Linked DNA regions of Homo sapiens: regions 2, 3, 4 and 5 are each reported to be linked to region 1. The links are microRNA targets in miRTarBase. Many come from high-throughput screens and were not tested one by one. Region 1 holds a microRNA gene; each other region holds the end of a gene's coding sequence.
What was found. The annotated mature microRNA hsa-miR-4445-5p reads AGAUUGUUUCUUUUGCCGUGCA and lies in region 1 at 1,908-1,929, shown strand. An mRNA with a match to its seed (bases 2 to 7 or 8) in the 3' UTR can be bound and repressed. Matches are read on the target gene's strand: a 7mer-m8 pairs with bases 2 to 8, a 7mer-A1 pairs with bases 2 to 7 and ends in A, and an 8mer does both.

Region 2: miRTarBase lists AP3M1 as a target of hsa-miR-4445-5p. Seed matches in the 3' UTR shown: 7mer-m8 at 3,118-3,124 and 7mer-A1 at 2,988-2,994.
Region 3: the mRNA of HECTD2 is a reported target of hsa-miR-4445-5p. The part of its 3' UTR that is shown has no 7-base or 8-base seed match.
Region 4: the mRNA of RASSF8 is a reported target of hsa-miR-4445-5p. Seed matches in the 3' UTR shown: 8mer at 1,274-1,281.
Region 5: miRTarBase lists PCMT1 as a target of hsa-miR-4445-5p. The part of its 3' UTR that is shown has no 7-base or 8-base seed match.

What each region holds. Positions count from the first base shown.
Region 1 is chr3:109,600,928-109,606,981 of GRCh38, forward strand. It overlaps MIR4445 (microRNA 4445), which reads left to right and starts at 1,901; the gene lies at 1,901-1,970.
Region 2 is chr10:74,118,863-74,124,916 of GRCh38, forward strand. It overlaps AP3M1 (adaptor related protein complex 3 subunit mu 1), which reads right to left. Exons shown (of 9, transcript NM_012095.6): 8 at 5,518-5,662; 9 at 1,393-5,048. The coding sequence ends at 4,948. It overlaps VCL (vinculin), which reads left to right. Exons shown (of 22, transcript NM_014000.3): 22 at 1-1,307. Among named protein-coding and RNA genes, the nearest start is that of AP3M1, 29 kb to the right of the region's middle.
Region 3 is chr10:91,511,363-91,517,416 of GRCh38, forward strand. It overlaps HECTD2 (HECT domain E3 ubiquitin protein ligase 2), which reads left to right. Exons shown (of 21, transcript NM_182765.6): 21 at 902-3,458. The coding sequence ends at 1,022. The region is part of intron 3 of HECTD2-AS1 (HECTD2 antisense RNA 1); the gene reads right to left. Among named protein-coding and RNA genes, the nearest start is that of HECTD2-AS1, 97 kb to the right of the region's middle.
Region 4 is chr12:26,067,552-26,073,605 of GRCh38, reverse strand. It overlaps RASSF8 (Ras association domain family member 8), which reads right to left. Exons shown (of 6, transcript NM_001394098.1): 5 at 5,893-6,037; 6 at 737-4,909. The coding sequence ends at 4,788. Among named protein-coding and RNA genes, the nearest start is that of BHLHE41, 54 kb to the left of the region's middle.
Region 5 is chr6:149,800,988-149,807,041 of GRCh38, forward strand. It overlaps PCMT1 (protein-L-isoaspartate (D-aspartate) O-methyltransferase), which reads left to right. Exons shown (of 8, transcript NM_001360452.2): 7 at 1,213-1,429. The coding sequence ends at 1,392. It overlaps LOC107986660 (a long non-coding RNA gene), which reads right to left and starts at 4,352. Exons shown (of 2, transcript XR_001744415.1): 1 at 4,316-4,352; 2 at 2,138-2,806.

The DNA.
Region 1 (6,054 bases):
TTTTCTGCATCTATTGAGATGATCATGTGATTTTTGTTTTTAATTCTGTTTGTGTGGTGTATCACATTTATTGACTTGTATTATGTTCAACCATCCTTGTATCCCTTGTATGAAACCCACTTGATCATGGTGGATTACCTTTTTGACATGCTGTTGGATTTGGTTAGCTAGTATTTTGTTATGGATTTTTGCATCTATATTCATCAGGGATATTGGTCTGTAGTTTTCATTTTTTTTTTTGTTATGTCCTTTCCTGGATTTGGTATTAGTGTGATATTGGCTTCATAGAATGATTTAGGGAGGATTCCCCCTTTCTCTATCTTGTGGAATAGTATCAATAGGATTGGTACCAATTCTTCTTTGAATGTCTCATATAATATAATTCAGCTGTGAATCTGTCTGGTCCTGGACTTTTTTTGAGGGCAAGTTTTAAATTACCATTTCAATCTCACTGCTTGTTATTGGTTGATTCAGAGTTTCTATTTCTTCCTAGTTTAATCTAGGAGGGTTGTATATTTCCAGGAATTTATCCATCTCCTCTAGGCTTTCTAGCTTATGCATGTAAAGGTATTCATAGTAGCCTTGACTGGTCTTTTGTATTTCCATAGTATGGGTTGTAATATCTCCCATTTCGTTTCTAATTGAACTTATTTGGATCTTCTCTTTTCTTTTCTTTTCTTGGTTAATATCACTAATGGGCTAATCAATCTTATTTATCTTTTCAAAGAACCAGCTTTTTGTTTCATTTATCTTTTGTATTTTTTTGTTTCATTTAATTCTTCTCTGATCTTTGTCATTTCTTTTCTTCTGCTGATTTAGGTTTGGTATGTTCTTGTTTCTCTAGTTCCTTGAGGTGTGACCTTAGATTGTCTGTTTGTGCTCTTTCAGACTTTCTGATATAGGCATTTAGGGCTATGAACTTTCCTCTTAGCACTCCTTTGCTGTATCCCAGAGATTTTGATAGGTTGTGTCACTGTTATCATTCAGTTCGAAGAAGTTTTAAATTTCCATGTTGATTTCATTCAGCAAAGTTTCAGGATACAAGATTAATGTATACAAATCAGTAACTCTGTTATATACCAACAGTGACCAAGCTAAGGATCAAATCAAGAACTCAACTCCTTTTATAATAGCTGCATATAATAAAATACTTAGGAATATACCTAACCAAGGAGATGAAAGACCTCTAGAAGGAAAACTACAAAACACTGCTAAAAGAAATCATAGACAACACAAACAAATAGAAATATATCCCATGCCCATGGATGGGTAGAATCAATATTGTGAAAATGGCCATACTGCTAAAAGCAATCTAAAAAATCAAAGCAATTCCCATCAAAATACTATCACCATTCTTCACAGAACTAGAAAAAAAAACCCCTAAAATTCACATGGAACCAAAAAAGAGCCTGCATAGCCAAAGAAAGATTAAGCAAAAAGAACCAATCTGGAGGCCATAGTCACCAAAACAGCTGATCCTGGTGTAAAAATAGGCATGAAGACCAATGGAACAGAATGGAGAACCCAGAAATGAAGCCAAATACTTATAGCCAACTGATCTTTGATAAAGCAAAGAAAAACATAAACTGGGGAAGGGACACCCTATTCAACAACAAATGGTGCTACAATAATTAACAAGCTACATGTGGAAAAATGAAACTGGATCCTCATCCCTCACCTTATACAAAAATTGACTCAAAATGAATCAAGGACTTAAATCGAAGACCTGAAACCATAAAAATTCTAGAAGATAACATCAGAAAAATCCCTTCTAGACATTGGCTTAGGCAAGGATTTCATGACCAAGAATCCAAAAGCAAATGCAACAAAAACAAAGATGAATAGCTGGGGACTTAATTAAACTAAATTAAGCACAGCAAAATTTTGTGATTGTCTGTTTTTCCTGCAGATTGTTTCTTTTGCCGTGCAAGTTTAAGTTTTTGCACGGCAAAAGAAACAATCCAGAGGGTAAACAGACAACCCACAAAATGGGAGAAAATCTTTGCGATCTATACATCCGACAAAGAGCTAACATCCAGAATCTACAAGGAACTCAAATCAGCAAGAAAAAAACAAACAATCCCATCAAAAAGTGGGCTAAGGACATGAATAGACATTTCTCAAAAGAAGATATACAAATGGCCAACAAACAGATGAAAAAATGTTCAACACCACTAATGATCAGGGGAATGCAAATCAAAACTGCAGTGTGATACCACCTTACTCCTGGAAGAATGGCCATAATAAAAAAATGCAAAGAATAATAGGTGTTGGCATGGATGTGGTGAAAAGGGAACATTTTTAACGTGGTGGGAATGTAAACTAGTACAACCACTATGGAAAACAGTGTGGAGATTCCTTAAAGATCTAAAAGTAGAACTACCCTCTACCCAGAGAAAAAGAAGTCATATGAAAAAGATACTTGCACACACATGTTTATGCAGCAGAATTCACAATTGCAAAAATATGGAACCGGCCCAAATGTCCATCAATCAATATGTGGATAAATAAATTGTGATATATACTGTAGAATACTAGTCAGCGATAAAAAAGGAATGAAATAATGGCATTAGCAGCAACCTGGATGGAATTGGAGACTATTATTCTAAGTGAAGTAACTCAGGAATGGAAAACCAAACATTGTATGTTCTCACTTATAAGTGGGAGCTAAACTATGAAGATGCAAAGGCATAAGAATGATACGATGGACTTTGGGGACTTTGAGAACGGATGTGGGGTGGGTGAGGGATAAAAGACTACACATTGGGTACAGTGTTCACTGCTAGGGTAATAAATGCACCAAAATCTCAGAAATCACCACTGAAGAACATATTCATGTAACCAAACACCTACTGTTCCCCAAAAACCTATTGAAATAAAAATTATAATGAATTTAGGAAAAAAGCTGCAGTGGAGGAACTCATAGAAAACTGTCTCATACCAAGTCTGTGCTCTCATGGGTCTTATGTATCAGTGAGAAAATATCATAATAAAATAATATCAGGTCAGAGACAAATAATATTAACGAAAATCCAGCAGTGGACGAGGGGGTGCAATTGGTAGGGAGTGCATTTTAGAAAGGTTGGTCAGAAAAGGCTTCTCTGATAAGGTGACTTTTGGCAGAGATTTTAATAAAGGATAGAAGAGCATGCCCATTTTGATAAATAATAGTTTAACATTTTTTAAAGTACTAAGATCACTCTTCCAAACCCAAGTTTATTAATCAGAGTTCAATGTCACAAGTTACAGAAAAGGGATTTATTAAAAGCATATTGGAGCCTGTAATCCCAGCACTTTCGGATGCCAAGGTGGGTGGATCATCTGAGGACAGGAGTTCAAGACCAGCCTGGCCAACATGGTGAAACCCAGTCTCTACTAAAAATACAATAATTAGCTGGGCATGGTGTGGAGTGTCTGTAATCTCAGCTACTTGAGACGCTGAGGCAGGAGAATCACTTGAACCCGGGAGGCAGAGATTGCAGTGAGCCGAGATCATGCCATGGCACTTTAGCCTGGGCGACAAGAGCAAAACTCCATCTCAAAAAAAAAAAAAAAAAAAGCATATTGGGACGTTCACAGATGCTCCAAGTGGGTAGAAAATTTGGGGGCAGATTCACACGGACAGGAAAAAGTGGTCTGGTGGAAAAACACAGCCACTATTACCCCAAATGGGAATATCAGCTGCAGGAACCCCTAACAAAGCTGAGCAGGGCTTCAGTTTGCAGGAGCTGGTAGAGCCACCAGAGAACATTTCTTTGGTCTCTACTTTTTTTGCCATCTTCTTGCTAGTAAAAATTTAGTACTACCAAGTCTGATTAGCAGAGCCTATGTCTTATGCCCAGGCCCTAATTATAAAGAAAGCAGGGTGGTGAATGTTTGGCATTTTCAGCTTTTGTGGCTGGGGAAATCCACACATGCAGGAAAGGCTTCAGTTGCTGGAGGATTATAAAGGATGATCAATTCTACAATAGCAAGAATCTCTTATAACTCAAACATTCCTTAACACTAACAACCTTTTCTTATATTGTTCCTAGACTCAAAAATGGTTAATAACACTTTGGTATTTATAAAGGTGACTTATTTATTTAAAATATTAACTATCCACAGTGGCCATTATATTTGCATACAGTTCAATACTCAAAAGATCTGTGAGGTTTTGAAGCAGAAAAAGAATTTCATTTCAGCTAAGGGATTTAGATTATATATAAGATGGTATATATAATTTACTCTTGAAATGGGTAATTGAATTGTTGCTGAATAAATATGAGATGATATATTGAAATAGATACAGTTTGCAAATATAAATAAGTTGGGTATATGTAACTGGTTTCACAACCCTGTGAGAACATATATGATACCATTAACATTAACAGCTATATCTCAATTGCTCCAATATCCAAACCATTTTGTGTGGCTTCAGTCTACTGTCAAATGTTGTTTCCCTGGGTGAGGTCAGATGCCTCTAGCATGACGGAATCCCATGTGCCCTGGAAGAAGACTTCTCATGTGCTCGTGACTATTCCTGAATTATTGGCTTATTCCTCTATCACTACCTGTGATACTGGAGTCTTCTGGGTGACAGGTACTTTCTGCTGTTTCCCCCTTTTAATTCTCCACTGGACCTCAAAGCAGCACTGTATAAGCTTAGAGCCTCATCACATTTTTGATGTTAACTGTAAGATTTTTCCCTTAACCCTTCATTTTCAGAGGTTTAAAACTGGTTAATCAGTTCAATGAAGGGGACAACACAACATCTATCCCTTTCACTGCCTTTATGAATACTCCTTTCACAAGTATCATTGTCGTACTTATACCATCACCATAAACAACAACAACATGTCCCCTTTCTTCTTCAGCTCAAAGATTAAAACTTCTCCCTCATATTTATAGACACAAATAGATACATGTACACAGTATGGCACAAAAAGCAATCTATTCATAGTTTAGGCTTAGTGAAGATATCCTGATACTCCCGCATTGGTACATAATAGAAAACAGACTTTGTGATGGTTAGATGTACAAACTGGGTAGCGTTTGGTTTATATATTTACTTGACTGTCTTTTACTCTAGCTAATGTAGAAGCTCAGGTGTTCAAATTATCCAAGCTCTCTGTTCCAGCAGTTATTTTCAAATCCAAATTGGGAAGTGATGGGTTCCTGATGTATTTAAATAAAATTTGTTAAAATGTGCCATTATCAACAGTAATGTACCAGCCTGGCTCAGTTAGGTCAGAAACAGATCAAAAAGCAGAAAAGTCGGCTGTTTCCTAACTGAGCTGCTTTGCTTAGCTGTTTTGGGGCAATTAGTAGCTTGAGGAAAAAGTGAATAACAAATTTACAACTATGTGTAATTGGATTTATGTGTGCAAATTCCTCAAAGAAATCAAATTACATTTGAAAACACTGTTTTATTTTTCTTCATGACAACCTATTATGGGGAAAAAGGGATGGGTATTTGTACTACCATTTTATAGATGAGAATTTTGACTTGCTGAGAGAAGATGACAAAGTAAAAGATGAATAAACTACTTCTGGACTGTAAGTCTCTGGTCTAAAACTCTTCTACTTTCTATATAATAATGCTGTTTAAAATATGGATCTGTGGTCATATAATTCCTATCATTTGTGTGTTAATAATTTGATGACACCTTATCTATGTACTTTCTATCTTGATTTCTTAAGTTCTTTGAGACCTGTTTTTCTTATCTAAATCCCTTATGCATATGAATCTTGAATTTAGTATTTTGTTCAACATGAAGGCACTTTGGGCTTCACAAGAACACAAATTTGTATAGGATGGACTTTAATATAACAGCTCTATTTTAGATTCTAAGAGTATCTCATTTTTAGAATTTCTATAAGAATGTTGTAAGTCTCTCCTTTAACATTGTCCTAGAGACTGCCCCGTGCCAGCTTAACTGACAATTCACTGTTTGCTCTGAACTAGAGGCAATATTCCTTTGTGCTCTGTGCAGACACATCAATATGTATTTCAAGCTCCATTCCTAAAACTGACCTAGTGCTGGCATGTCACAATTTTTTCGGCTAATGAAT
Region 2 (6,054 bases), not on the chromosome of region 1:
TTACCATGCCCCTGAGCAATGTCTGTGCTAGGGAAACTTCCCGTCCCATATCCTGCCTCAGCCCGCCAAGGTAGCCATCCCATGAACACACTGTGTCCTGGTGCTCTCTGCCACTGGAAGGGCAGAGTAGCCAGGGTGTGGCCCTGCCATCTTCCCAGCAGGGCCACTCCCGGCACTCCATGCTTAGTCACTGCCTGCAGAGGTCTGTGCTGAGGCCTTATCATTCATTCTTAGCTCTTAATTGTTCATTTTGAGCTGAAATGCTGCATTTTAATTTTAACCAAAACATGTCTCCTATCCTGGTTTTTGTAGCCTTCCTCCACATCCTTTCTAAACAAGATTTTAAAGACATGTAGGTGTTTGTTCATCTGTAACTCTAAAAGATCCTTTTTAAATTCAGTCCTAAGAAAGAGGAGTGCTTGTCCCCTAAGAGTGTTTAATGGCAAGGCAGCCCTGTCTGAAGGACACTTCCTGCCTAAGGGAGAGTGGTATTTGCAGACTAGAATTCTAGTGCTGCTGAAGATGAATCAATGGGAAATACTACTCCTGTAATTCCTACCTCCCTGCAACCAACTACAACCAAGCTCTCTGCATCTACTCCCAAGTATGGGGTTCAAGAGAGTAATGGGTTTCATATTTCTTATCACCACAGTAAGTTCCTACTAGGCAAAATGAGAGGGCAGTGTTTCCTTTTTGGTACTTATTACTGCTAAGTATTTCCCAGCACATGAAACCTTATTTTTTCCCAAAGCCAGAACCAGATGAGTAAAGGAGTAAGAACCTTGCCTGAACATCCTTCCTTCCCACCCATCGCTGTGTGTTAGTTCCCAACATCGAATGTGTACAACTTAAGTTGGTCCTTTACACTCAGGCTTTCACTATTTCCTTTATAATGAGGATGATTATTTTCAAGGCCCTCAGCATATTTGTATAGTTGCTTGCCTGATATAAATGCAATATTAATGCCTTTAAAGTATGAATCTATGCCAAAGATCACTTGTTGTTTTACTAAAGAAAGATTACTTAGAGGAAATAAGAAAAATCATGTTTGCTCTCCCGGTTCTTCCAGTGGTTTGAGACACTGGTTTACACTTTATGCCGGATGTGCTTTTCTCCAATATCAGTGCTCGAGACACAGTGAAGCAAATTAAAAAAAAAAAAAAAAAAAATCCCTGAATGATGATTAGAGACATCACCGCTAAAAAACTACATTTATAAGCTAGGATTTGTTATATGCAAATATTTTCTGCCTCTTCTTTTGTTCTGTTTAAAACAATAAAATGCATTTGTATAAAAAATGCTTTAAATGATGGATATGTTACTTTAGCAAGAACTTTTAGGTCAGGTTTCTCCTTTGTTTTGATGAATAGTCAATGAAACTAATCCTCAAGATCTGGAAACTAAAGATTTTTATTTAATCCAAATGTTGCACTGGAAGAAGAAATCAACAGTGGTATATTTACTTAACAAGGATGTGTGTAATACAAGACAACCCTGGGGATTACACACTTGAAGGAATGGAAGTGGCAAAGGTTAACAGGCAGAAAGCAGCTGGATGAAACAGTTTATTTTCATCTTAGAAGATTCTAGCTATCTGTGGAGACCACCACTGTTCCCCGAAAAGCTAAAGTTGTTAAGTTTGTAGGAGTACCACAGGTCCTTCCCCCTGCTGCAAGACAGAGACTTGCTCTGTTGCCCAGGCTGCAGTGCAGTGGTGCAATCTCAGCTCACTGCAACCTCTGCCTCCCGGGTTCAAGCAATTCTCCTGCCTCAGCCTCCCATGTAGCTGGGATTACAGGTGTGCGCCACCATGCCTGGCTAATTTTTGTATTTTTAGTAGAGATGGAGTTTCACCATGTTGGCCAGGCTGGTCTCGAACTCCTGACCTCAAGTGATCCGCCCACCTTGACCTCCCAAAGTGCTGGGATTACAGGTGTGATCCACCACGCCCGGCCACACAGGTCCATTTTTCATATTCCAAAGCCCAGTATAGAATAAATAGGGTTTTCAGGGATCCACCAGGGCTATAAAACAGAGTTAGCTTTTGGGGACATAGTCCTCTTCTTCCTTAAAGAAACACTGACTAAAATAGTAGGAGCAGGTTTTTAGAGTAGAGTTGGGACATCACTTTTTCCCTGATTTTCTAGATCTGAAAGGGGTAACATGTCATTAAAGGGTGATGATATTGATATTTAGTGTTGCCAACTGCTATTATCACTGCTTTATCTTGGAAAGTTGCCGACTATAAAGACAGATTCCAGCCTGCTTGAGTTAAGGGAAAGGCCAAGGCTGCTACTGAATTAGCAGTTTCTAAAACTGTCTTGTTTTTGCCATTTACCATATGTTCACTGGTGCTGCCTTCCTGCTGTAGTATAATCATTTTCTCAAATCAGTTGCCTCTCAGGACAAGATCAGCATTTTCCTAGGGTCCTTCTGTAGCACCACTTAAGGAATGAACCTATCACAGGAACTCCCTTTGAATAAAATGATGGTGACTCCCACACGCAGGAAAGAATCATTTACTTCATTTGCTCTTGATATACTCCCTTATGAATTTAGAACAAGTGATCCAGGATTAGCTGTAACTCTGTGCTTGAAAAATATTTTACTACTACTAAGTATTCAGAAATCTTTGTTATCAGTAGGTGGTGGTAGTGATAGGGAAGGGAGCTTTGATCACTAATCTCTCAGACTGTGGCCAGAATGGTGATGCTTAAGCCAAGTATGAATGGCTATTAACATACTGAGGTTAGGGAAGGAGTACTGAGAAGTGCTTTGCAGCAACACTCGCAGCTTGTGTGATGATGCAGAAGAAAATCTGATCATGTTCACCCTGCTTTGACAATGAGCCTTGCCCATTGGAGAATGTTCAATCAATAGTAGACCTAAAAAAAATCAACTTGTTGCTTTCATCTTTTTATTGATAGCACAGCCAGAGCTACCAAAATGATTTACTGGATTCTAGCAAATTAATAAATACAGTAATTTGATTGTAAAAGGAAACATTCTACTTGGACATTTTAGTAGAAATTGCTAGAGGGAAGGAGCTCCTGGCGTACATTCTACTTGGATAGAAGAGAAGATAGCACAGGAGGAGAACTGGACAGTCCAGGTATAGATTGTTGAGATTAGGGATTCAGCAGAAAGCAAAGCAAATGTTCTCATTGTTCTTTTGAGGTACGAACTCTGAAGAGTCAAGACATTAAAAATAAAAAGCAATTGAACCGGGTAGCCAAACTTAGGCAAAAGGAATAAATATTTGGCAACATTTTGACTTTAACTGCCAATCTGAGATTAGTTTCTTCAGAAATTTGGAAGCTGCAAAACGTTGCCTTTCTTATTCCATGAAAGGCAGGGCAGGCAAAGGTAAGAAAACTGCTGAGTGGGCTCCTTGTACCAGCACCAACCAGCAGCCCTTGACAGCATAGATGGGATGAGTGTAAGGGCTATCCTTAGCATAAGGGAAAGACGGTTATAAGCTGAGAAGATTGAAAGAAGAATGGAGCCACAAAGAGAATAGCATAAATAACAAGAAGGAAACATGAAGAACAAGCACTTAAGATATTAACTTTCAGTCTTTCTCCATTTCTTGATGTCTAATGAGGCAAAATAACTGGGCAAGGACCACCAAGATGAAGAAGTTAAATAAAATGTCACAATGAAATTGAGTGCAATAATACAACTGTTGACTGACTTTCCAAAACCACGGTGATCGGTAGAGTATCATCAATGTTACCGAGGATTTTGTTTCTGCCTCATTATAACTCACTTCCATGTATTTTGTCAGTATAGTACGTATATTTAAGCACTCCAGTGACAATTATGACAATAGTTTCTGGAAGAAATCTATGACTATAGCTTTGGGAAGCACACAATATGAAAAGGGAATTTCCCCTAAAGACAAGGAATGCAGACAAATTCAAACCCTTAAGAACAACAACAAAAAAGATTTAAAAAGACTGATGACTGTGAGGCAGGCACATTTTCCTCCTTTTGCTGAACTGGGGCATGAGGCATTTAGGTTAACCATGGCTTAACTGGTGTTGGGTAAGCTTTATATTATAAAACATGAAGATGGCAAAGGTTTCACTTAAGTTTTTCTTTTACTACTTTAATTTGCTTAAAAGCACAAATGCTTGTGCTTGCAGTAACTTCCTAAAAGCAGAAGTAATGTTCCCTTTTACTACCTTAATAAAGCATTTGCCCCTTTGATACAAATGATTTTTTTACTGTGCTAACAGCTGAACCAGTGGCACAAAATTGAGATGGTATTTACTGCAGCAAGGTCCCTGTAAATCAAATTCTAAGCTTTACATAAAAATCTTATTTATAAAAAATACAATACCAAGTACAGTGAGAATGGAGCATGGAGCAGCAGTGCTCCCTGCCAGGGCCATGTGGAAGTGGCTTTTGCTACAGTGCTTGCTTAATGGCACAAGTGAAAAGCTGAATAAGGCAAACACTTGAAGAGGCAGTTTTCTGTAAACTTCTGGGGGTGGGGGGAATTTCCTCTCGGGACAGATACTGGTTTGGGATGGCTAAGATCAGAAGGTGTGATATTTGGCTGCACCTGACACATCACAGATTTAAGATAGCTTCTGCTGGATGAGACCAGTTAACTCTTTTAGGAGAGAGGTTATCACTACAGCTTTCTGCCTTTACTGTTACAATGTGCAGCCGCCAGATGGTATCCTCCTATGGAAAAAAATCACCTCCAAAATCTTCCTAAGTGAAAAGATACAAAATAAGCTAAGTCACTAAAAGGTTTCCTTAGCTTAAAGCTCCTTAAGAATCCTACATTGATAACTAAGTAACTTTGTTAGCGGTGTGTAGCTAGACACAAATGCTTTAACTAGAATATGTATTCCCACTCACTTGGTACCTAATAGTGATACATCGTAATGACACTTGGAAAACAAACTGGTCCTGAGGAATTTTGGCCTCTTCTCATGTCCTCACTTGGAACTTTCCAGCTTTCGTGACGTATTTGACTCCTTTAAATGGCTTATATTTCTCCCCATACATGTCCAAACGGTTTACTTTTAAGCCTGTATCAAAAAGAATGAAAAAGAATAAATTATCATCATCCCAACCAATATAATGTTAGCAATGAGCGCTATATGGTAAATCTGACATTAACCAGTGTCCCTTCCACCATTTGGAAGAAATGTCTCTTCTATCATTTACAAATTATTGCACTTTGATGGTATGGTTTTGGTTAAGATTCCCACACAGGCAGGGAATGTCTGTGAAGTATAATTCTACTTTCTGTGAATATGAATAACTCTCTTTTTGGTGCTTAAATGAGGGCGGAGGTGAGGGGAAGCTGTTTGAAATAAGGTGCTCTGAAAAATCATTTGGTCGGTGCCTGTGAGACTGCCCCACCAAGCACAGTATAAAAGGCAAATGGGCTACTGCTCTTTCTAGAGAAGGAAACTTTTGTTACTCTTCTAAATGCCTAATAAATGAGCTTGCAAAACTCAATTACCCTTAACTACAAGTCAACCTTATCCTTACCTGAAATAGCAAGCTGCTGGATCTTAAACTGTATGTTGAGGCTCGGATTCTCTTCTGGTTTGGGGGCTCCAGACTGTAAATTTACCAGTCCTTTAAGACTTGGGAGCTTTTGTGGAGTAATTTTTCCCACATCCCATGTTAGTACCTTAAAAAGACAAAAAATGAAAAACAAATAGAACCATTTATTAAAGACAAACCCTCAAAAACAAAGTTCAAAGATATCATAAACTTCTGTACAAACTGAAGTGCAGTCTCTTGAAAACAAGAGATCTGGCATCTACAGTGAGTTTACCTCTGATTAATTCTGTGACTTTGAATGGGGAGTGAGAGCAGAGAATCTACATTTGTTGAGCATTTTCTTTTGTATTAGCACCGTGCTTAGCATTATTCATATGTTGTCTCATTGAGGGCTGTGAAGTAGCTTTTGTCTTCTATTTACAAATGAGGAAATTAAAGCTCAGAGGACATTAAGGCTCAGAGATCAAATGACTCGCTCAAGGTCACATAGTTAGTCAGAGGTAAGGCTGGGATTTGAAC
Region 3 (6,054 bases), not on the chromosome of region 1:
CAAAATGCTCTTTTTTAAATTACTTTTTAATACTAAAAACCGGAATAATAGTATCATTCATTATATTATCTACTCCTCGGCTGCTAGATGTTTTGTGTATATCACTCTTTTAATCTTTTTAACCATCAGTCCTCAACCTTTTTGGCACCAGGGATCGGTTTTGTGGAAGACAGTTTTTCCACAGAACCAGGGAGGAGTGGGGAGAGTGGGAGGTGGTGGTAGTTTTGGATGAAACTGTTCCACCTCGGGTCATCAGGCATTAGATTCTCATAAGGGGCATGCAACCTAGATTCCTTGCACGTGCAGTTCACAATAGGGTCCTTGTTCCTATGAGAATCTAATACTGCCGCTTATGTGACAGGAGGCAGAGCTCAGGCAGTAATGCTCGCCTGCCACTCACCTCCTGTTGTGCAGCCCAGTTCCTAACAGGCCACCAACAACCATACCCATCTCTGGCCCTGGGGTTGGGAACTCCTGGTTATTAAACAACCTGATTAGGTTATTAAACAGCCTAATTGGATGGTTTACCCTATATTGTTGATGAGGAAACTGGGATTTGGGGATATTATGCAACTCGAACAAGACCCCACAGCTAGTAAGTGGGGAAAGCAGAATTCAAATTCATATCTGTCTGACTCCAACAAAATGCTTCTTAAATGAGTTTCATGAAAGTGGTAACATTGGTTGTCTTGTCTGTAACCACAGCCTTAGTGTCTAGAGTGGTGTCTGATACAAAGTGAGGTACTCAGTAAATATCTGTTCAGTGAAGAAATGGATGAGTCATCTCTTAACAGAGTGAAATAGATTTGAATGTGTGTGTCCTGGTATTTTTTAAAGTTGCATAGCAGTCATTTTGTGTGTGTTTCAAGACTTAGTATTTTTTTTTAATTTTTTTCCCTAGCTTACCTGTGGCCCATACCTGCTTCAATCAACTTTGCCTTCCCCCCTACAAGAGCAAAAAGGATCTGAAACAGAAATTGATCATTGGAATTTCAAATTCAGAAGGTTTTGGACTTGAGTAACCTAGAAGACTTGAAATATAATCTTTTATATGTAGCATTCACTTCCCTCTTACTGTGCCTTTAGCCTTTTCATGTTTCTGTCTCAAAACACTTTGACAAAGCTCACCAACTTTAAAATATTAAGTTTTTAAAAAATCAAATATGAAGTATGTTCAGCAAAGGCATAATTTTCTAAAAACACACACAGAAATCGCTTGAGTGAGGAAAAGTCCACATGGCAGAGACAGGTATGGTCCAGTTCCTCTTTTATATAGCACTTTATCATTCTCCACAAGTAGTTTGTCACAGGCATTCCACTGGGAAAGCAAAGTACAGTGAAGAATGAATTTATGGTATAGTTGAACCCAGTGGCAGATTGTACACTGCTAGCACTGCTAGCACACAGTAGCAAAGCAAACAGCTACATTATCTTTAACATAAGGCATGTAGCCATATTTTCATATAGTGGTATACAACACAGTATCATTGCAAATGCAGTTTACAGGGATTTTTGATATACTGGCTTGGGACCTATAAGATTCTTCTCAGCAGTTGCTGAAAAGCATGTAAATAACTACATAATAGCCTGAGAATAATGGGATTTTGATAGTGCCATTTATTGTTAAAGATTTATTTTTACAAAGTAAATTCAGGGTTTTAGATGTGTACACAGCTTTTACAAATCAATAAAGATGATTGTACAAGAGTATTTTCAGACTAATTGGATTCAAGGTTATATTCTTTTAAGTGTTGTTAGTCTGCATGCACATTGGCAGTAAACTAGTTACTTGTGTACTCTGTAATATTTGTATAATGATCATTTCTTCTTAAGGCTCAAGATATTAGAAAAGAAATCAGACCTAAATAATCATTGATGAAGTATGTCAGTTACAAGCACAAAAGAATATAACTGCTTTTATAAATCTTTTGAATCATGTACAAGACTTATATCTACATTTTTTGATCACCAGTTGTACCAAAACACTAATTTTTGAAAAAGATAGGTTAAAGTATTTGACAAAAGTGAATACAATAATAACACTTGTGTCAAAATGATATAGCTTAGTATAAAAATAAAATTCAACGTTTTGGCCAAAATGTTTGTTTTTCACTGGATTCTGAATATAATAAATTCAAAGTACCCTTTTTTTAGAGTTTCTAATAAAGTAGTATGTAAAAAGAAACTGCATTTTAAGTCAGACAGTAAATGTTTTTTTTAATTTACAGCAAATGAAGCAGTTTTATTAGCATGTTACAAATATTGCCAAACCAAGACTTCTCTACCATACTTTAACAGCTTTCCTTCAGAAAACTCTGAAGTTATATTTGCAATAATAATGAAACCAGCATTTAGTACCAGCATATGGTTCATATGCAAATAATACTTTCCCCAAAATCTTTCTGGGCTAGGCTATTTTCTTGCTATGCTTCCTGCACCCAACCAGCAGAATTCTTCCAGGGTGGAGGAACTAATCAGCTTGTTCTCCAACAGTTCTGAAGCCAACCCACAAATCTTTGAGGAAAAGGGGTCACTTTGTTTACTATTCTCTTGGAGATGGAAGTGATTCTGCTCTTCCATTTGGGTATATTATTTCAAGGGTATTTCTTCTTAAAAATCTTGGAAAGCCTAAGAGAGTTAAAGGCATCCTGGTTTTGTTTCATTTTGCTCTGTTTTAAATCCATATGCAAATAAAACTGCTTCTCTCTTACACTGCTTGAACTAGAAAATCAGCTTTTTAATGTAGGTTACCACTTATAAGCACAAAAGAAACATGTATAAGAAACCAGATTTAAGTGTTTTAAATAAAATGTAAACAGTTTTTATTTGGTAGAGATGACTCATGGAAAAATTGTGTTGGCTTGGTCTGCATGTTTAATGATGTGCTTGTATATCGATTAGCTGTGTCACTTTTAAATAAGAAGTCCACACAAGCAAGCCAAATTTTTAGATGACGAAGTCCATAAATAACTAGAGAATTTTTGTTATCTGTTGTTAAGTTGAAATGTATAATCATTTATCACTAAATTGCACATTGCCTTTATTTATTTGTGCTCTGTTTTTGGTTTACAGTGTAATAATACCTCATTTAAAAAATAAAAACCACTACTGTTACATTTTATTAATTTAAAAAGCTAGAAAATTCATGTAGTTACTTTTTTTACATATATAATCTGTTAATGAATTATTGATTTTTGTATCTGCCACAGTAAATTAAAGCATTACACAGTATTTATCAGTATTTTTTAAACATCCTGTCCTTTTTTAAAATCTTTGCTTAGTCAGTCATATTTTTGTCTGTATGATTAGAAGTTTTTACGTCCTTCCTTTTTTGTACAAATCTGTATTGTATTAATTTCTGGATGCAATTTTTCAAATATTAAAATTATACAGTCAGTCAGGCTTCAGTTTATTTTTTGAACACTTGGGCAATTAATTAAAGCCATATGTTTAAAATATTTTATAAATGCAAGCTATTCTTTGCATTATACTCTCTCAATCTAGTGCTTAGGAAAATTGCTGACACATAACTTCAAAAGATGTATGTTGTTGACATTAAGTATTACCAACCTCTGTAGCATATTTTCAGCATGAAATGTATATCCAATATTTGAAAGATCACACAGCTATTCCACCAAATGAATGTATAATACCATTTGGAGTACACCCAGAAGTGAACCAAGTGTAACATTTCATTGGCCGTAGATAGATAACTTCAGCTCTTAAGTAAGTATTCCTCTCCAAAACCATTCATTTGGCCCTTTTCCCCTTGTCCACATACCTCATGCTTAAGGAAGGAAGAGTGGAGATTATAAGAATGTAAGAGAGAATGTTATGGGTGATTAATGAAAGAAAATAGGTAGCTGGATGGAAAAAAGACCAGGATGGGTTTTCGCAGGAGGGGACACAAGATCAGTTCACCCAGATGGCCGCAAATCGTTTAGTCTAGTGCCTAGGTTTTGGAGCCAGACTGCCTGGGTTCACCATTTACTAGCTGGGCAAGTTAACTTCCTCATTCCTCAAATGTACAATGGAAATAATTTGTAAAATGGAAATAACCTACCTACCCCATAGAGTTGTAGGGAAGATTAAATGAACTAATGTGTAAAGCACTTATCCAGTGCCTGGCACATGATAAGCAATAAAAAGTGATGCAAGACAAATTATGGTACTGATGTAGAAACATCCTACAACCACTGCTTCTGACGCCTTCTGGAGGCTTTTGACTTAAATGCTGGGTTCAACCACAGATTATAGAACGCAAAGTGCTTTTGAAGCCTTAAAATTGTGTTGGGAGAATCTTTCTTATTCTAGAAACAGTACTGTAGGATTTATCCTTATAGCTGTCTCATGATGCAAGGGTTTTAAATACTATTTTATAGCTGTGTAACAAGATACAATTCTATTTTTAATGAAATAGTTCAAGTAAACAGAAAAATTTCAGGATTAACATAATGAAATACCATGATCCCACACTCAGACCTAAAAAATGATAATATGTGTTAATATTACCAGTTTTTTAAAAATAATTTTGCAAATGGGATTGAAGCCCCTTTTGTGCCCATCTCCAATCCCCCTCTACTCCCTCTCTGTTCTCTGTTAACCTGTAGTTCGTGTGAATCTTTCCCATGCTGTCTTTACATATATGTACCTATGTGTAAACACTATGTAATATTGTTACAGTTGCATACATCTCATGCTCTATATATCTTTCCAAAACTTTTTTCACTTAATATTGTCTTTTATAGATTTATTTACATTTAGATATAATGCATTTTTAACTGCAGAATAGAATCATGAAATGCATGTACCACTTTCTGGATCCATCCTCCCACACACTAACATTGAGTTGTTTTCCAGTGTGAACCAGGCTCTCTAGACTATAGCCCAGATGTAGAATTGCTGGATCACAGGCTGTACATCTCCGGCTTTACCAGATATTGTCCACTTGCTCTCCAGAGTGGTGGTTCCGGCATTAATTTCCATCAGCATTATAAAGAGTTGTCGTTTGTCCACATTCTCCCCAACACTTGGCTTTAGCAGACCTTTCTTGGCTTATTTAACTAGTGTGATTTAATTTCTATTTCCATAATTGTTAATGGCATTGAACACCTTTGTGTATATTTACAGGCTCTTCAGATTTCTTCTGTGAATGGCCAGTTCAATATTCTTAGCCTGTGTTTTCCTATTTTTTTTCCCTATTGGTGTTTAGGAGTTTTTTCCTTATTCTGGATATTGATCCTTTGTTAACAGGAGCTACATTGCTTCAGTTGAATTCCAGATCTGCCAATGACTAAGTGACTTGGAACAAATTACTTCAAATTACTTAATGTTTCTTTGTCTCAGTTTACTCATCTAGAAACTAAAGAAAATAATACTTAGCTCACAGGGTTGTTAAATAAGTTTCCATACAGGTATATTTGTATGTATGTACATATGTATGTATATGTGTATATTATATATAAGTTTATAAGTGTATCAGATATATGCATATGTATAGACTTACATACTTAAACTTACAGAACATACATATGAAGGGCTTACATTTGTGCCTGACCCATAAGTGGTCTCTAAATGTTTGGTATTATTACTATTGTTATTACCTGTATTCTAATTCTTATTGTGCTTGCATTACAAATATTTTCTAATATGTGGCCTAATTTTTAACTTTATTTACCTCATCTTTTATACTATGAATTTTTAATGTTAATATAATCCATAAAATAAGGTGCCATTATTATCATTTTATGTAGATAATGTTTAGATTTAACCACACATTTACAACTTCTTCAAACACCATTCCCTCTTCTATGGTCCTCCACCTACCTCTGGAATCAAATTTCCTCCTCATAAAGAACATCTATTAGAAATTATTTTAATGAGGGTTGGTTGGTAGCAAATTATTTTAAATAACTGTCACCTTTATTCATGAAAGATTTATTAAGCATACATTTGTAGGTTGATAATTATTTTATAGTTTTTAATATATTAATCCATTACCTTTGATTTCGTTGTTGACATAAAGTTAGCTATTAGTATAATTGTATGCCTTGG
Region 4 (6,054 bases), not on the chromosome of region 1:
CACCACGCCCAGCTATTTTGTTTTTACTTTTCGTACAGACGGGGTTTCGCCACGTTGGCCAGGCTGGTCTCGAACTCCTGACCTCAAGTCATCTGCCCACCTTGGCCTCCCAAAGTGCTGGGATTATAGGCGTGAGCCACTGCGCCCGGCCCTCATGTATAATTTCTAAGTAAAGGTTTAACTTCTTATAAAAATATTCCTATAAAAATGACAATTTATATACTTCCACATTAAAAAGTGGTTAAAATGCAGAAACTGGGCACCGTAAAGCTCATGCATCTCTACCATGGAATACAGAAAAGTGCCTTGAGGTCTGAAACATCTAAGTTCAAATGCTATGTCAGTTACTTAGGGGTTGTGTGATTTAGGAGCAGTTCCTTGGATGGCTGTGAATGTTTAAAGTGTGACCGGTGCCCCATATTGCACTTGGCACGTAGTAGGGACTGAAATGTTAGTTCTCTTCCTCTCACTTATGGTTTTAGGGAAATCTGGGAATACAGAGATTCATTAAGATATCATTTCTTCTTTCACTTTTGAAATAAAAGGCATAGTAGTTTCTTAATTCAGTTTTACTTTGATGAAGCCATCTTTGGAGCAGTAGATGATTCTTTAAGTATATATGAAAAATGTAATTATGTGTAGTGATATGTGCCACTATTCTCTTTGGTATCTTTTAAAGGAAGTAAAATTGTATTTAAAAATATAAAGGATGTAAGAAACAAACTGACAACTGTAATGCCCCAATGAATCCTGAAAATTTATTATTTGGGAGAATATCCAATATTGATTCTTTGTTTTACAGCTCATAATGATCAGAAAATATACATTTAAAATGAAAGTCAAAGAAAAGGATAATTACATATAATACATATTACAGATTTATTTGTACATAAGCAAAGCAGTACTAAAAGCATATTTATGTGCTCACAATTAGTGAACATGGCAATTTTCTGTTTAAAGCTGCAGCAACTCAAATCCTCCTAGGGTCAATAAAGAAAAACATATTGAGAAATACATTTAGGGCTATCACCATGTCTGGCTGTAAATCTATTTTTTAATCTTTCCCCTCCCCCCATATATATGTATATACTTTATTGCCTTTATATTTCTGCTGGTTTAATATAATTAGTATACGAAATAGTTTTCTGCATTTATTTGGTTTCTAAAAATATATAAAATGCATTGAAAAGAGCTCCTGCAGCTTTCAGGCAGTCACTGTCCTGGCATCGAAAGCTTATTCTGGAGATGTAAAGCAGCAATACTGAATAAATAGTGATTGTTTTGTCTTTTTGATACAGCTGATGGCCTTCACCCCAAACTTAAAAATACTGTAGCAAATAGTATAAACATGCAACTTAAAAAACTGAACACAATACAAAAGTAATAATTATAAGCTAATTTTAACACAATATAAACCAATAAAGACAACTTTAGGTAGGAGAGGGATGTGAACACAGCATCGTTATATAAATTAAGGCCAAATTTATCAAAGGCAATGCACAATGGGAACTGTCCATCTGCCCAAGCACTTTGCATGCCTGAAATCAAAAGTTTTTGTCTTTTCTGTGTTATTTCCTCAATCCATTACAGTTCTATCTTGGAAGATGTTTACAGAAATGGCTTCAAATGAACAGTCTGTTTCTCTGAAGACCATTTTGCTCTTATTCACAGAGAAAATTATCCTTTAATGCAGATGTAAATTACATTTATGCTGTGGAAGCAAGTGCTTACATGTTCTTGTTATATATTGCTATACTTCATATTTCACACCATAAATTCTATTTTTTTTTTACTGTATTTATATAGTTTTTACTCTATCAGTCTTGCTGTAGCTCTTGTTTATGACTAATTTGAACTATAGGAATTGATGATTACCTCATTGATGACTGGGAGAATTAAATAGGTAACTCCTATTAATACCAACTGAAGTCTCATATTATAAAAAAGTCCCTGTGCATCAAGACAAAAAACAAAATGTTATCAAACCAAAATATCTCAGAAGGACAAGAAAGGGACTATGGACACTATGTCCACAGGCAACACACTATGGGCCATTCTCTGAGGATGACAGACACTCAAAAGGTCAAATATACCAATGCTATTCCAAATTATTTCTTGGTAAGATAAAAAGATCTTTAAATGTATTTAATACTTGTAGAAAATCACAATAAAACAAGTTGCAATATGATTTTTTTAAAAAAAACACAAAACATTGAAATCTAATTTAGTATTTAGAACCTGAACATTCCCCCAGATGAAAATTTTATATTTGGTATTTTTGTATACCATTGCCCACTACCCCTCCGAAATGTATCCAGGATGTGGCACTTATCTAATTCATTTGTATTTGCAATAGATAAAAATGATCACAAATATACTAAAGTATCTTCAGATGATCCTATGAAAACGAGTTTTTTTCCCTCTGAGTCTTAGAAAATATTCCTTAGATATGTGCTTCCAGAAGTAATATAACTAATTAAAAAGTACAGCTTCTCAATGTATTCAACATATTCACATTTCTATACTTTCGTCGCCTAGGAAATTTTTTTAAATCTGTAATTAGGTCTATGAAGATTATTTGGCAGCTTGGAAATTCTGATGAAGTTGTCAGAGAGGTTAACTGTGATACTCTGCTGGGAACCCAAGACTACTACAAGTTGCTAGGATGCTGCTTGTCCTTACTTAAAGTTATTAGGTTAATTCTGATAACAATTTATAATGAGTTGGATATTGACAGTGTTTTTCGTGGTATGCCAAGGCATCTCTGAAACTCCTAATTGCAAAGTTTAATACTGCCTCCAGTTTAACATTTTGACTTAAAGAAAATGCGATCAATTTATAAAATGTTTTTCTTTGTGAATAAGATCTTGATTTCTCTGAACAACAACAAAATGACTTTATACAGAATGACTTATTTAAAAATAAGGCATATATTGGGCATATGTAAATCATTACTGTCACAAAATCTATAAATTATTTTTTAATCATCCTAATTTTAAATATAGGTAGATAGAAAATAACTACTATAAATTGTGAGCAAATGTGTACAGGTTGTGGTTATTTAGGTAAGAATCATTTACTTCAGTTATTTGCAAAGTAACATAATGGCAAGATCAATTTGATAACTCCAAGAACCCAAAGAAACTCATATCTTCAGTTGAGGTCCGCCACTTAGCTGCACTAGAAAAGGCAACTCTGCATTATGACTTTCAGTTCTCTAGAAGCTTCTATACAGTCTCATAGCCATTCTTAAAAATTTCATAGGAAACCTAAGTAGAGCAGCATTGTCAGCATTCACTAAACCAAAGTCAGTCAAATGTGTTAAAACATCCAAAGTTGCCTTCATGCATAAGACATAGCTCTATTGTTACCATGGCATTACTATATTAATCCACTTTTATTTTGTTGCATGTAAATAATACAGAGGATGTAACTTCTTCAGAATTAAAACTACTTTAAATTTCAGATTAAAGTCTTAATTATACTGTACCAAATCTAACCAGAGGGAATGTAAAAATGGCTAAGTGGTGTCTGACTGAATCTGTCTAAATATTACTTGTAAATCTTAGTTAAGTCACTACTCATCAAAAAGGTGTTGAGTCATATTTGGTTTTACAAATAAAATAACATATGTACAAATGGAGATTAATGTCTTGTAAAAGTCAAGCCTAAAAATAAAAACATATGCTGAATTTGACTTTATATCCTTGCTAAAAAGTACCTAGGTTTAACCTCCTTTCCATCTAAGTGACTGGAAGAAACCACAATGGTCCATAATATGCAGAGCAAATTATGTGCAAGCAATACCTTACCCATGGTGTGTACACCAACAGATCATACATATGAAGCGGGTTATTTTAAAATACATCACTTAAAGCAATGTTCCTGAAGTAGACCAACCCAGCTTTCAGGTATCTATAACTTCCATGTTAGATTAATTCTGAAGATCCATGAGTGTAAATGATAAGACAGGGCAGAAACAAAACACATAATGTATCAGGAAACCCCATGCCTGTTTGGATACATACTTACCAATTACATTTTTGTTCAACAGTGTCTGAAACACTGCAAATGTTTTATACATACAATTTAGCTTATGAAAAATATCTGTTATGCTCTGTGGCCACACGTATATTTGGAAATATTGTAAAGGAACGACTAAATTCCAGATTTAAAAAACCCTGAATTATTTCACCTAATTAAGCAATGGCTAGGACAGTTTCACAAAACAAATGCAAGTGGCTTCCTGTGGAGTTAGCTTCGATGGTGGAGCACCCTAGGACACTTGTGTAGTGTAAATCAGCAATGCATGGATGGAGTCTGGCAACATGCACACGGTCATAATCACACAATATGTAACGTAAGTCAGTCACAGGATAAGTCAATAAAAATATTAAAACATCAACATTCACACATTGATTACATGAAATAAATTAAACTAAGCCAGTCACAAATTTCTCTTCACTCTTACTTAAGTCACGGCTTATTTATGTATACACACTATATAATACTTTCCTAAAGCTCTCAAAATGCTACAAATAAAAACGAAGGCTTTGCATTATAGCTGCTGGACAAAAATATCAACACTGTTGATGTGTGAAAACACAGTTTCTTTGTTCTTTAGCATCAGTGCACAGGGTATGGCTCCAAGTGGTATGCAATTTAGGAGAGAAAAAACATACAGCGTCTTGTGGAATAGATCCTCTGTTCATCATTGGCACAAATCAAAAAGGAAGTTTACTGTCCTTGGTACCTCTGTTGGGTCTCCTCCCTAAAGACAGATAATGTCATACATATATGCCTTCAGGATTAAAACCAGATGAGATAGGATTCTGCAGAATGCGGAGATTACTGGGGAGCTGCCGAGATGAACCAGGTCGCTTCAGGGACCCAGACTGGAATGGTGCCTCTAAACAGGAAACAAAGAGAGCCACCTGATGAGCTCGTCAACTTGGAGTACTTAGCAATATAAAAAATCAGACTGCTTCCTACCCCAAAAGGGAAAACTGCATAGAGCAATAATTGCAATCCCCTGTGTGCCCTGGGCTGGGGGAGAAGGCTAAAACCTTCTCAGGTCTCTTTGATAAACTAGTTTTTGTTGATTTGAACAGTGAATGATCTTTACAAAAGGTGAATATTCTGCTTCTTTTTTTGGTTGTTCACACCATATGCATACACAGATTTGGAATTGTCTTTTAAATATCAGCACAAATTAATAATAACTTTTAGAAGAAAAAGAAGGAAAAGGGGGGCATAAGGAACAGAGAAGCCAAAATTCAAATTAATAGACTATAACTCATATATACTTCAGAAAAAAGTTTTAATAAAGAAGTAGTTTCAAACTAATGATATGACATTTGGTGATTACATGCTCACCTAAGTAAATAAATAACCTAAATGTTACTGGTTTTCCTCTAGAAATGGGAAATATTTTTTTAAAAAAAGAATTTTTAAGTGTCCCACTTAAAAATTAGCTATGAATGTTAGGGTAATATTTTAACTGAATACAAGTAGTTTATTCAAAGTTAAGCAGATGGTCGGGCATGCTGGTTCATGCCTGTCATCCCAGCACTTTGGGAAGCTGAGGCAGGCATATCACTTGAGCTCAGGAGTTTGAGACTAGTCTGGGCAATATGATGAAACCTCATCTCTACAAGAAATACAAAAAAAGAAAATCAGCCAGGTATGGTGGCATGCACCTGTAGCCCCGGCTACAGGAGGCTGAGGTAGGAGGGTCACCTGAGCCCAGGAGGTCGAGGCTGCAGTAAGCCGTGGTAATACCCCTGGCATTCCAGCCTGGGCGATACAGTGATACTATCTCAAAAAACAAAAACAAAAAAAGTTAAGCAGTGAGAATAAAGGGAAAATAAACCATATTTATCAACATCTTACCCCTTTCAATGTCTGCATGTGAGGCCTCTATTTCAATGGGCTCCGCTGGCAAAACGGTAACTTTTGTCCCTGTCTGCTGGATGAACTGCTGGAGATTGACTTGCCGCAACTCCTTAGTCAACTGCTCCAGTTCCTGTTCTTTGTCCTAGATGGAAATTATTA
Region 5 (6,054 bases), not on the chromosome of region 1:
AGATGAATAAGACACAGTCCCCATCCTCAAGAGCTTGTCGTTTAATAGAGGAGGCTGATAGTTGAGTAATAATATAACAATCAAAGTATGTACAGGGTGAGTATCCCTTCTCCAAAATATTTGGGACCAGAAGTGTTTTGGATTTTGGATTTTTTCAGATTTTTTCACATTTTGGAATATTTACATATACATAATGAGATATCTTGGGAATGGGACCAAGTCTAAACATAAAACTCATTTATGTTATACCTCTTATACACATAGCCTGAAGGTAATTTTGTATAATATTTCAAATAATTTTGTGCATGGAATAAAGTTGTGATTGCATTTTGACTGTGACTTGCCACATGAGGTCAGGTGTGAAATTATCTACTTGTGGTGTCATGTTGATGTTCAGAGTTTTGGATTTTGGAGCATTTCCAGTTTCGGGTTTTCAGATTATTGATGCTCAACCTGTATATACTATGTATTTATTTTTAAGACGGAGTCTCGCTCTGTCACCCAGGCTGGAGTGTGGTGGCGTGATCTTGGCTAACTGCAGCCTCCATCTCTGGGTTCAAGCAATTCTCCTGCCTCAGCCTCCCAAGTAGATAGGACTACAGGCATCTGACACCATGCCTGGCTAATTTTGTACTTTTTTAGTAGAGTTGGAGTTTCACTGTGTTGGCCAGGCTGGTCTTGAACTCTTGACCTCAAGTGATCTGCCCACCTTGGCCTCCCAAAGTGCTGGGATCACAGGCGTGAGCCACCGTGTCTGGCCTTAATTTGTATATACTAAATAAAGAACGTTTCTGCTTTCTGCCTATGGACACTAAAAGTTGTTTATAATGATGTCAAATGACTATTAATATAAAATCTGGGCCGGGCACAGTAGCTCACGCCTGTAATCCAAGCACTTTGGGAAGCCGAGGTGGGTGGAGTACTTGAGGTTAGGAGTTCGAGACCAGTGTGGCCAATATGGTGAAACCTTGTCTCTACTAAAAATACAAAAATTAGCTGGGCATGGTGGCGTGTGCCTGTAGTCCCAGCTACTTGGGAGACTGAGGCAGGAGAATCACTTGAACCTGGGAGGCAGAGGTTGCAGTGAGCTGAGATCGTGTCATTGCACTCCAGCCTGGGCGACAGAGTGAGACCCTGTCTCAAAAATAAATAAATAAAATAAAATAAAATCTGTAACTTGGTGATGTATGTGCTTTTTTTTTTTTCTTTTAGCTAATAGATCAGTTAAAGCCCGGAGGAAGATTGATATTGCCTGTTGGTCCTGCAGGCGGAAACCAAATGTTGGAGCAGTATGACAAGCTACAAGATGGCAGCATCAAAATGAAGCCTCTGATGGGGGTGATATACGTGCCTTTAACAGATAAAGAAAAGCAGTGGTCCAGGTGGAAGTGATTTTATCTTCTGCTCTTTCTTCTTCCACACATGCAAGGTGAAAGGGTGTGGATTTTAAGACATTAGACTACAAGAGCTGTTTTTGGTTGTCACCTTTATGCTCCTCCATTATAACGTCAGAAATTCATTACATTAAAAATGTGAAAAATGTTGCATGGTCTGCCCTTATTTTGGTTTAACATATATATCTTTGGGAAAGGGAGGGTGAGACTTGGTTGGCACAAAGGCTTTTTTTGTTTGTTTGTTTGTTTTTTTTTTAGAGAGACTTTCAGCTTCAATTCAGTACTTTGTAAGGATTTTTTCTTCATTATCAGCCACTCTGTTTTTATGTTTTTAAATTATTTTTATAGCACTGGATGGGCATGGAAACAATGAGTTTGGTCTGTAAAAGAGGCCAGGCGGAGTGGCTCATGCCTGTAATCCCAGCACTTTGGGAGGCCTAGGTGGGCGGATCACTTGAGGTCAGGAGTTTGAGACTAGCCTGGCCAACATGGTGAAACCCCGTCTCTATTAAAAATACAAAATCAGCTGGGCGTGATGGCACAGGCCTGTAATCCCAGCTACTCGGGAGGCTGAGCCAGGAGAATTGCTTAAACCCTGGAGGCGGAGGTTGCAGTGGGCCGAGATTTTGACACTGCACTCCAGCCTGGGAGACAGAGCAAGGCTCTGTCTCAAAAAAAAAAAAAAAAAAAAAAAAAAAAAACAAGGGGCCATCATTTCCTGCCCTGTTTATTGTACCAACAAGGAGAAAGAAGGGGAAAGATAACGGTCGTCTCAGTTTTCTAAAATGTCAGAATACCAGAGAGGACATTCTACCTCTCAGCTTGGTTTATCTGTTTCAACCAAATCATAGATACCTGACAGCCCATGCCTATTTTTCATTCAGCCTTGTTTAAGAGTCACCTTCTCCCCATTCTATAGAATAGGCCAGCCACTGTTTAAGCTATTCTGGCTAAATTCCTAGGAAGAGGCAAGGATTCTACAAGTTACCCAATGAGTGCCCAGGTCTCACAAACCCACCCAGAGGGTCAGCAGCATGCAGCAACTTTCAGCACAGCATGGTTTATAAAGAATGTCCACTTTTGTTTTATGTCTCAGCATAATCTGAATATTTTGTTTGAAGCCAAGATTTCTCTTTTCCTCCCCTTCCCACTCCCTTCCATGAGAGAGAGTGACATCAGTACATAACAGTGCCATTAGCTCAAATTACTTGAAATTAAATGCCAAAACAAGAACGGCTTTACAGTTTCCTTGTCTTAGCATCTTATTTTTATTTGACATAAAGATTCTTATTTTAAAATAATTAGTTTCTTAATAAGTAAAAGGGGTGATAATAAGTTTAATAGATCTCTCAATGTTGTTTTTATTCTTCACCAATAGCTATTTTCTGTGAATTATACGTGGAGCACAGCCACTGGAAAAAAAAAAAAAAAAAAAAGCATTTTAGTCCAGGCATTTTGGGAGGCTGAGGTGAGCCAATCATCTTAAGTCAGGAGTTTGAGACCAGCCTGGCCAACATGGTGAAACCCTGTCTCTACTAAAAACACAAAAATTAGCTGGGCATGTTGGCTTGCATCTGTAGTCCCAGGCACTCAGGAGGCTGAGGCAGGAGAATTGTTTGAACCCAGGAGGCAGAGGTTGCAGTGAGTCGAGATCACACTACTGCCTTCTAGCCTGGGTGACAGAGCGAGACTCTGTCTCAAAAAAAAAAAAAAAAAAAAAAATTAAAAAGGCATTTAAAAAATTACTGGTTTTTTCAACTGGAATCAGATGTAGTTATTAACAACTAACTAAAACCTTCCTTCACTTTGCTTCTAGTATGGTTTATACAATTACATAATTGTGAGATTATTGTAGTATAAAAGGGGCAAATATGTTACTGAAATTACTGAAATTTGATAAGAAGAGTTGATTTTCATTAGCAACTTAGAAATTTTTCTTTTTATATACAATAAATATTAGTGTTGAACATCTTGCCTATAATTTATAATTTATAATTATGAAGGAATTATAAAAAGGGAATTTTGTTTTTATGACTAGAGGTAGATTTACTGTGAAGCTAACAAAGCTGAAGCTGCAGAGCCCTTGCTTGTCTAGGTTTTCTCTGACCCTGTTCTTAATTTAATTTAATTTAAAAAAGTGTTTTTTTTGAGACGGAGTCCTGCTCTGTTACCCAGGCTGTGTAGAGCAGTGGTGCAATCTCAGCTCACTACAACCTCCGTCTCCCAGGTTCAAGCAATTCTCCTGCCTCAGCTTCCCAAGTAGCTGAGAGTATAGGCGCCCAGCTAAATTTTGTATTTTTAGTAGAGAAGGGGTTTCACCATGTTGGCCAGGCTGGTCTCGAACTCCTGACCTCAGGTGATCTGCCCGCCTCGGCCTCCCAAAGTGCTAGGATTACAGGTGTCAGCCACCATGCCTGGCCCTGTTCTTAATTTTATATTATGCATAGTCTTACTGATTTTTTTTTTAACTTCATAAAAAGGTTCCCCTGTTTTCTAATTATATAAACCTTAGGCCCCCACAAAACCTGAATCCACCTTTGATAAAACCAAACTATTTGTATTAAGAAATTTAAAATAGGGCCAGGTATGGTGGCTTATGCCTGTAATCCCAATGCTTTGGGAGGTTGAGGTGGGAGGATCACTTGAGGCCAGAAGTTCAAGAGAAGCCTGGGAAACATAGTGAGACCTCGTATCTACTAAAAATTTAAGAACTAGCCAGGCGTAGTGGTGTGCACCTCTAGTTCTGGCTACTTGGGAGGCTGAGATAAGAGGATCACTTAAGCCCAGAAGCGGCAGTGAGCTGTGATCACCACAGCATTCCAGGCTGGGCAACAGAGCAAGACCTTATCTTTAAAAAATATATTTAGAATAATTTTTAAATTTATGGACAATTAGTCATCTGCTAAACATTAAATGTATACCTGCTTTTAGGCTGGGCGCAGTGGCTCACGCCTGTAATCCCAGCACTTTGGGAGGCCAAGGCGGGCAGATCACAAGGTCAGGAGATCGAGACCATCCTGGGTAACATGGCGAAACCCCGTCTCTCCTAAAAATACAAAAAAATTAGCCGGGCGTGGTGGCAGGTACCTCTAGTCCCAGCTACTCGGGAGGCTGAAGCAGGAGAATGGCGTGAACCTGGGAGGCCGAGCTTGCAGTGAGCTGAGATCGCGCCATTGCACTCCAGCCTGGGCAACAGAGCGAGACTCCGTCTCAAAAAATGTATACCTGGTTTTCTTTTTGACCTTCAAAGTTTTTTAAAAATTGAACAAATTTAGGCTGGGCACAGTGGCTCACGCCTGTAATCCCAGCACTTTGGGAGGCTGAGGCGGGCGGATCACGAGGTCAGGAGATCGAGACCATCCTGGCCAACATGGTGAAACTCCATCTCTACTAAAAAAACAATACAAAAATTAGCTGGGCGTGGTGGCAGGCACCTGTAATTCCAGCTACTCGGGAGGCTGAGGCAGGAGAATCACTTGAACCTGGGAGGTGGAGGTTGCATTGAGCCTACATTGTGCCACTGTACTCTAACCTGGCGACAGAGTAAGACTCTGTCTCAAAAAAAAAAAAAAAAAATTGAGCAAACTTACATGTTCGCACTATCAGAAAAAAAAAAAATTTCTCCAGGTGTACCAGGAGGACTTTCTAATTTTTCTGTTGTAGATGCTTTTCTTTGGCCATTTGTTCAGTTGCTAAATATTTTTCAGCGTGAGGATCTTCTTAATATTATTCGTGAATTCAACCAATATGCATATGCCAACTAGGCCAGGCACTGTACTAGGTGCCAGGAGTCATCAGCTGTGAATTTGAAACTGACTGCTCTCATGGAGCTTACAGTAACGTAGGAGATGCAAAGACCAAGATGAATAGGCAGTTATAGGGTAGTGTTCAGACTCGCGGTAGGGAGCCAGGCATTGAAGTGGTCAGAATTACATTTCAGAAAGATAACTCTAGCTGTTATGTAGAGACTAGCCTGGGAAGGGACAAAAGTCGAGTCAGAAACAGGAAGTGGTTATAGCAATTCAAGGATGAAATGATGGTCTGCATTAAGGCAGTGTTAGTAAGGATAGAGAGAAGTGGGTGGATAGCTACATCTAAAATACTGTCACTGTTTTCTGGGAATTATCATCTAAAAAGTTCCCTAGTCAACTTCTTGCCAGGCTACGTGATTTCTGTTCTTTCAAACTTTCCGTTTTTGTTTTTGTTTTGTTTTATTTTGTTTTGTTTTGATACAGTCTCTCTCTGTCACCCAGGCTGGAGTGCAGTGGCATGATCTCTGCTCACTGCAGCCTCAACCTCCTGGGCTCAAGCGATCCCCCCTGCCTCAGCCTTCTGAGTAGCTGGGACCACAGGGTGTGCCACCATACTCAGCTGATTTTCTTGTTTTTTTTGTAGACAAGGGGTTTTGCCATGTTGCCCAGGCTGGTCTCGGACTCCTGAGCTCAAGCGTTCCACCCACCTCAGCCTCCCAAAGTGCTGGGATTACAGGCTTGAGCCACCAGCCTCAAACTTTCTTCAGGATTACTTTAACTCATTATAATACTTTCCTAGGAACCTTCTCTTGTGTCTCACCAGCTTTCCACCTTTCTTACTGAGGAATAATCCAGAGCTAATTGCGGTGCTCTGATGAGGGTGAGATCCCATTTTTGCTGAGGCGATG